Homo sapiens: one gene and its partner. The protein of the gene in region 1 purifies or fractionates together with the protein of each later gene. This does not show direct contact. Each region holds a gene or a part of one and is shown in the gene's direction. Other genes may lie near its edges.

Region 1 (3,763 bases):
TGAGTTTGGCCCGTGGGCTGCAATTTACCAACTCCCGATCTGGAATATTGATTAGAGGTAGAGAAATAAATGTATTCCAGTTCTTAACACCAAGAATACATCTTCCTTTGTTCTGTCAATGGGAGTGTCAGAAGAACAGATAGTCCCAATTCTATGGTTGTGGTGGCAGCATGGATATCTTTTAGGGAATTTATCTTAGGTGTCAGTGCTGAAGCAAAAATCTCTGAAGTATGAATCCTTGAAGGAGAGAGATGAGCTGAAACTTGTAGCTGAAAGAGGAAACTATTTGTCTGAGTACCTAGTCCCCTGCATTCCCATCTTTACCACTTGCCATGCTGCCATAGGACGCGGTAGGGAATGACACTGAAATGGAATTCCATCTGGGCTTGTGCCACTTAGCAGCTTGATGACCTTTCCTGGGCCTCAGTTTCTCTAACTGAGCTTTAGCATCCCCATACATAGTATGAAGAGATTGGACTAGAGATGATATCTAAGATCCCTTCTGGCTCTAAAGATGGCATGTAGGGGATTCTGATAGCAGCAGATGTACTGCATATGACTGTTCTTAAATCAGGAACTTGAGATATAGTGTTTCTGAAAAATTTTTGCCTGGAAAAATAGAGACATGGTAACTAATTGTCACACATGCTTATTTTTTAGGGGCTAAGTGATGGATCTTGTACTCCGTGTTGCAGATTACTATTTTTTTACACCATACGTGTATCCAGCCACATGGCCAGAAGATGACATCTTCCGACAAGCTATTAGTCTTCTGATTGTAACAAATGTTGGTGCTTACATCCTTTATTTCTTCTGTGCAACACTGAGCTATTATTTTGTCTTCGATCATGCATTAATGAAACATCCACAATTTTTAAAGGTAAGAAATGTTTTTACCTATTTTCTAACGATTAAAGTAAAAATAACAATATGATATATTTCTGAGATTTTTAGATTAAGCTGATTATATGTAACCATTAAATAAAATTTTGGAGACCAACCACAAATGGGTTAGATATTTTCATGAGGGTTAATCCCTGCTCTCCTTCCCTTAGTTTAAGCAAATCTAACTTTTTAATAAAACTATAAGTCTAGTATCGTATCTTGCTAGATGCATATTGGAGCATTTTTATGCTGATATTGATGAGTAAATAAATGCATACATTTATGTAATTATTTTAATATATGATTTTCACAAACTGAAATGTGTTTTTTTACCATGTTTTGTTTTTTGGCTAGATAGGGGATTCAAACTCAGTAGTTTTAAAGTTGTTTACAATCATTTTTAAATTTCGGTTGTTTGTACTTGTCAGTGACTCCAAGGACTGAACAGCAAAAAGAAAAAATAGAGAGGATTGGGGATGGAAGTTAATTAGGAAAGAAATGGTTATTCCATAAATAGAAGTTTAGAATGCAGATTTTGGAGGAAGGAAAAAAGGTTTCAGAATTTGAAATACTTATTGCATTTTCTCAGTACAAAAGGAATGATTTTCTTACATACCTATTTTTATGTATTTAAAATTTTAATAGAAACAGTTTGGAGGTAAGCCCCTTCATGTAAAAGAGATTTTAAAAATCCAGTCCAGAACAGTTTTATGCTAGTTTTGTTTAACATGGATTTTGTGATTTTTAAGTATTGGAAATTTCACTTTCAGAATCAAGTCCGTCGAGAGATTAAGTTTACTGTCCAGGCATTGCCATGGATAAGTATTCTTACTGTTGCACTGTTCTTGCTGGAGATAAGAGGTTACAGCAAATTACATGATGACCTAGGAGAGTTTCCATATGGTAAGTAAATAACACGAGTGTCAGGAAGAGAGTAGTCTAAGCACAGGTTAGTTTCCTTAAAAAAACAAGTCTGCCCTTTTTTTTTTCATCTTTTAAAATAATTACAAATTATTCAGTTGTTTTTTAATGTTCTATTTTCATGTGTTCATGTCTTGCCACATGTGCATTTCTTTAGTTTTTCTATCAATCTGAAAGTCTGCTGTAGATGAGATTGTGTCTGGCGGAAGATTGGAGTGATCAGAGATGGGTCCTTGCATTTGTTTTCTATTAATTATTGAATTCAACCTTCTAAAAAAAACTTGAGTAGCTTATGTCATTGCTGAAAGTTAAAAACAGATTTTTAAAATGCATTATTCTGCTTCTTAGAAACTGTAACTCTTCTGGCATACAACCACCCACTTTTCTGTGCCTGTATACTTCATTGTTTACATTACACAAATGAAGTCCTGAGGTGCATAGTGGTTTGGGCTCTGAATTTTGTTTCTCTTAGCAACTTACATGGTTGTATTTTCATGTCAAAAAAATCTTGAGATTATGTAATATATTAGTCATAGTACTGTGCGGATATTCATAAGTTATGTAAATGATACCTAATTGTTAGACCTTCAGATTGTTACTCTTTTTTGTATTATAAACAGCCCTGTAGTGAGTAAACTTTTGTGAAATTCTGAAACTTTTTCAAGATACATTTCTAGGATCTAGTATGTAAAAAGCAAGAATCATAGTATTTATTGAAGGCTGATATGTGTCAGTGACAGTTCTCAGCTCTTCACAAGAATCAGTCCATTGTTTTCCTACAATTCTATGAGATAGGTACTATCACTGTGCTCCTTTTATAGGTGAGTCAATGAGGTGTACAGAGAGTTTCAGTAACGAGTTGGTGGTAGATCTGAGACTTGGACTCAGGCTTGCAGGCACCAGCACCCCCACACTTTAAGTAAGAAGTTAGTTATTGCCGGGCGCGGTGGCTCAATCCTGTAATCCCAGCACTTTGGGAGACCGAGGTAGGAGGATCACGAGGTCAGGAGTATGAGACCATCCTGGCCAACATGGTGAAACCCCATCTCTACTAAAATACAAAAAATTAGCGGGGTGTGGTGGTGCACACCTGTAGTCCCAGCTACTCAGGAGGGTGAGGCAGGAGAATCCCTTGAACCTGGGAGGCAGAGATTGCGCCACTGCACTCCAGCCTGGGCGACAGAGCGAGACTCCGTCTCAAAAAAAAAAAAGAAAAAAAAAGTCAGTTATTCAGAAGAAGGAACAAAAAATTATATACTAGAGTAATGAATTGGCTGGGCTTTGAAAAATGGATATGATTATGAGTTAAAATAAAGGGAGAGAGGACATTTTAGGTTCTTGAACCCCTATGATGAAAGATACAGAGGTAAAACTTCCAAGACAGTGGGAGGACATTGAGTAAACCTGCCTGGTTAGAGTAGAAATACAGGAGTGATGAGGTTGGAAAGATCCGAAAGGGGTGGAGTATGGAATAAATGCTAAATTTAAAGTATTTAGTGGAAAGTATATTTTAAGCAGGGAGATAATGTGTAAAGATGGGTTTTAGGAAGATTAATATGAAGGAAGTGATGATTCCCAGAGATTTAAATAATAAAGATGTCTTAGGAGTATCCTGTCTCACAAATATCTTTATAGTTTAATTAAGAAGTACTTTAGGTAGAACATTTCAAGTACTTATGCGAGGGAAATGAGGAAATGACCAGATTCCAAGAAGCCAAGAGAGATTAGTTTATAATATACTGAATTAGCCAGAACAGATCATTTATAATGTTTGAGTCTAGGATCCCATTTTGCACTCAGATGGACATGTGAAAAGTGAACTCTAATCCCAGGAGCTGAGTTTTGATTCTTCTGTTTCCCGTTTTCTTTTCTAGGATTGTTTGAACTTGTCGTTAGTATAATATCTTTCCTCTTTTTCACTGACATGTTCATCTACTGGATTCACAGAGGCCTTCAT
Region 2 (3,483 bases), on another chromosome or scaffold:
CTATTTGTACCGATTGCCTACTCCTTGATCTGTGTCTTTGGCCTCCTGGGGAATATTCTGGTGGTGATCACCTTTGCTTTTTATAAGAAGGCCAGGTCTATGACAGACGTCTATCTCTTGAACATGGCCATTGCAGACATCCTCTTTGTTCTTACTCTCCCATTCTGGGCAGTGAGTCATGCCACCGGTGCGTGGGTTTTCAGCAATGCCACGTGCAAGTTGCTAAAAGGCATCTATGCCATCAACTTTAACTGCGGGATGCTGCTCCTGACTTGCATTAGCATGGACCGGTACATCGCCATTGTACAGGCGACTAAGTCATTCCGGCTCCGATCCAGAACACTACCGCGCAGCAAAATCATCTGCCTTGTTGTGTGGGGGCTGTCAGTCATCATCTCCAGCTCAACTTTTGTCTTCAACCAAAAATACAACACCCAAGGCAGCGATGTCTGTGAACCCAAGTACCAGACTGTCTCGGAGCCCATCAGGTGGAAGCTGCTGATGTTGGGGCTTGAGCTACTCTTTGGTTTCTTTATCCCTTTGATGTTCATGATATTTTGTTACACGTTCATTGTCAAAACCTTGGTGCAAGCTCAGAATTCTAAAAGGCACAAAGCCATCCGTGTAATCATAGCTGTGGTGCTTGTGTTTCTGGCTTGTCAGATTCCTCATAACATGGTCCTGCTTGTGACGGCTGCAAATTTGGGTAAAATGAACCGATCCTGCCAGAGCGAAAAGCTAATTGGCTATACGAAAACTGTCACAGAAGTCCTGGCTTTCCTGCACTGCTGCCTGAACCCTGTGCTCTACGCTTTTATTGGGCAGAAGTTCAGAAACTACTTTCTGAAGATCTTGAAGGACCTGTGGTGTGTGAGAAGGAAGTACAAGTCCTCAGGCTTCTCCTGTGCCGGGAGGTACTCAGAAAACATTTCTCGGCAGACCAGTGAGACCGCAGATAACGACAATGCGTCGTCCTTCACTATGTGATAGAAAGCTGAGTCTCCCTAAGGCATGTGTGAAACATACTCATAGATGTTATGCAAAAAAAAGTCTATGGCCAGGTATGCATGGAAAATGTGGGAATTAAGCAAAATCAAGCAAGCCTCTCTCCTGCGGGACTTAACGTGCTCATGGGCTGTGTGATCTCTTCAGGGTGGGGTGGTCTCTGATAGGTAGCATTTTCCAGCACTTTGCAAGGAATGTTTTGTAGCTCTAGGGTATATATCCGCCTGGCATTTCACAAAACAGCCTTTGGGAAATGCTGAATTAAAGTGAATTGTTGACAAATGTAAACATTTTCAGAAATATTCATGAAGCGGTCACAGATCACAGTGTCTTTTGGTTACAGCACAAAATGATGGCAGTGGTTTGAAAAACTAAAACAGAAAAAAAAATGGAAGCCAACACATCACTCATTTTAGGCAAATGTTTAAACATTTTTATCTATCAGAATGTTTATTGTTGCTGGTTATAAGCAGCAGGATTGGCCGGCTAGTGTTTCCTCTCATTTCCCTTTGATACAGTCAACAAGCCTGACCCTGTAAAATGGAGGTGGAAAGACAAGCTCAAGTGTTCACAACCTGGAAGTGCTTCGGGAAGAAGGGGACAATGGCAGAACAGGTGTTGGTGACAATTGTCACCAATTGGATAAAGCAGCTCAGGTTGTAGTGGGCCATTAGGAAACTGTCGGTTTGCTTTGATTTCCCTGGGAGCTGTTCTCTGTCGTGAGTGTCTCTTGTCTAAACGTCCATTAAGCTGAGAGTGCTATGAAGACAGGATCTAGAATAATCTTGCTCACAGCTGTGCTCTGAGTGCCTAGCGGAGTTCCAGCAAACAAAATGGACTCAAGAGAGATTTGATTAATGAATCGTAATGAAGTTGGGGTTTATTGTACAGTTTAAAATGTTAGATGTTTTTAATTTTTTAAATAAATGGAATACTTTTTTTTTTTTTTTAAAGAAAGCAACTTTACTGAGACAATGTAGAAAGAAGTTTTGTTCCGTTTCTTTAATGTGGTTGAAGAGCAATGTGTGGCTGAAGACTTTTGTTATGAGGAGCTGCAGATTAGCTAGGGGACAGCTGGAATTATGCTGGCTTCTGATAATTATTTTAAAGGGGTCTGAAATTTGTGATGGAATCAGATTTTAACAGCTCTCTTCAATGACATAGAAAGTTCATGGAACTCATGTTTTTAAAGGGCTATGTAAATATATGAACATTAGAAAAATAGCAACTTGTGTTACAAAAATACAAACACATGTTAGGAAGGTACTGTCATGGGCTAGGCATGGTGGCTCACACCTGTAATCCCAGCATTTTGGGAAGCTAAGATGGGTGGATCACTTGAGGTCAGGAGTTTGAGACCAGCCTGGCCAACATGGCGAAACCCCTCTCTACTAAAAATACAAAAATTTGCCAGGCGTGGTGGCGGGTGCCTGTAATCCCAGCTACTTGGGAGGCTGAGGCAAGAGAATCGCTTGAACCCAGGAGGCAGAGGTTGCAGTGAGCCGAGATCGTGCCATTGCACTCCAGCCTGGGTGACAAAGCGAGACTCCATCTCAAAAAAAAAAAAAAAAAAAAAGGAAAGAACTGTCATGTAAACATACCAACATGTTTAAACCTGACAATGGTGTTATTTGAAACTTTATATTGTTCTTGTAAGCTTTAACTATATCTCTCTTTAAAATGCAAAATAATGTCTTAAGATTCAAAGTCTGTATTTTTAAAGCATGGCTTTGGCTTTGCAAAATAAAAAATGTGTTTTGTACATGAAGTAGGAATCGTATTTCAGCTTCAAGGTTCAGATTGAGGGGCCCACTGTTTGGAGAGGATGGTATTCAGGCTTTCTCATGTCCTTCAAATCTGTTAGCGTTTGACTCTAGAAATCAAAGCAAAGGAGTGGTTACCCAGACACTTCTTTTGGTGTGATCAATGCGCTGATGTGATCTATGAAGATGATTCATGCTTGAAAACTAGCACAGAAACATCTTGCTTATTTGCCAAAGCTGGGAGATGAGCTTCTCTGCATAATTTAAATGTTCAGATAAATGAAGCTGACTTATTTAAGCAATAACCTTTTAAACATTTTAGCTAAGATGTATAAAAATGTTTCCAAAATATACCACATACTTTATTTCTTCTTAAATGTAGTACATTAGGTTACATCATTTTTCTTGCTGTCTTGGGCATCAAAACAGGTGCCATGGTAACCTGACACTCTCAGGAGACATTAAGATAGAAGGGGCTGTTCTTCAGTGGTTCCCATTGATTCTCCCCATATCTTTTTGCTCTCAGGCTCTGGCCGTCTCTTCCTGAGCCTTAACTGTGTCTGCCGTTAGTCCTCCTCTCCACTCATTGCAAACATTATTCTATATGTTTGGTGGGGACATCAGCTATCTGCGCTTGTCAGAATTGTCTATTAATAGGGGCAATGTGTTAGAACCTCCAAGTATTCAATTATTTCTGGATACGTGAGATCTTACT

What was found.
Region 2: the proteins of SC5D (region 1) and CCR6 purify together in Homo sapiens (co-immunoprecipitation; one large-scale study listed by IntAct). This does not show direct contact.

What each region holds. Positions count from the first base shown.
Region 1 is NC_000011.10:121,302,706-121,306,468, forward strand, and holds part of SC5D (lathosterol oxidase), read left to right. Parts: intron 1-660; 5' UTR 661-670; coding exon 671-880; intron 881-1,655; coding exon 1,656-1,788; intron 1,789-3,680; coding exon 3,681-3,763. UniProt on the Homo sapiens protein: Catalyzes the penultimate step of the biosynthesis of cholesterol, the dehydrogenation of lathosterol into 7-dehydrocholesterol (7-DHC).
Region 2 is NC_000006.12:167,136,369-167,139,851, forward strand, and holds the end of CCR6 (C-C chemokine receptor type 6), read left to right. Parts: coding exon 1-987; 3' UTR 988-2,773; downstream 2,774-3,483. UniProt on the Homo sapiens protein: Receptor for the C-C type chemokine CCL20. Binds to CCL20 and subsequently transduces a signal by increasing the intracellular calcium ion levels.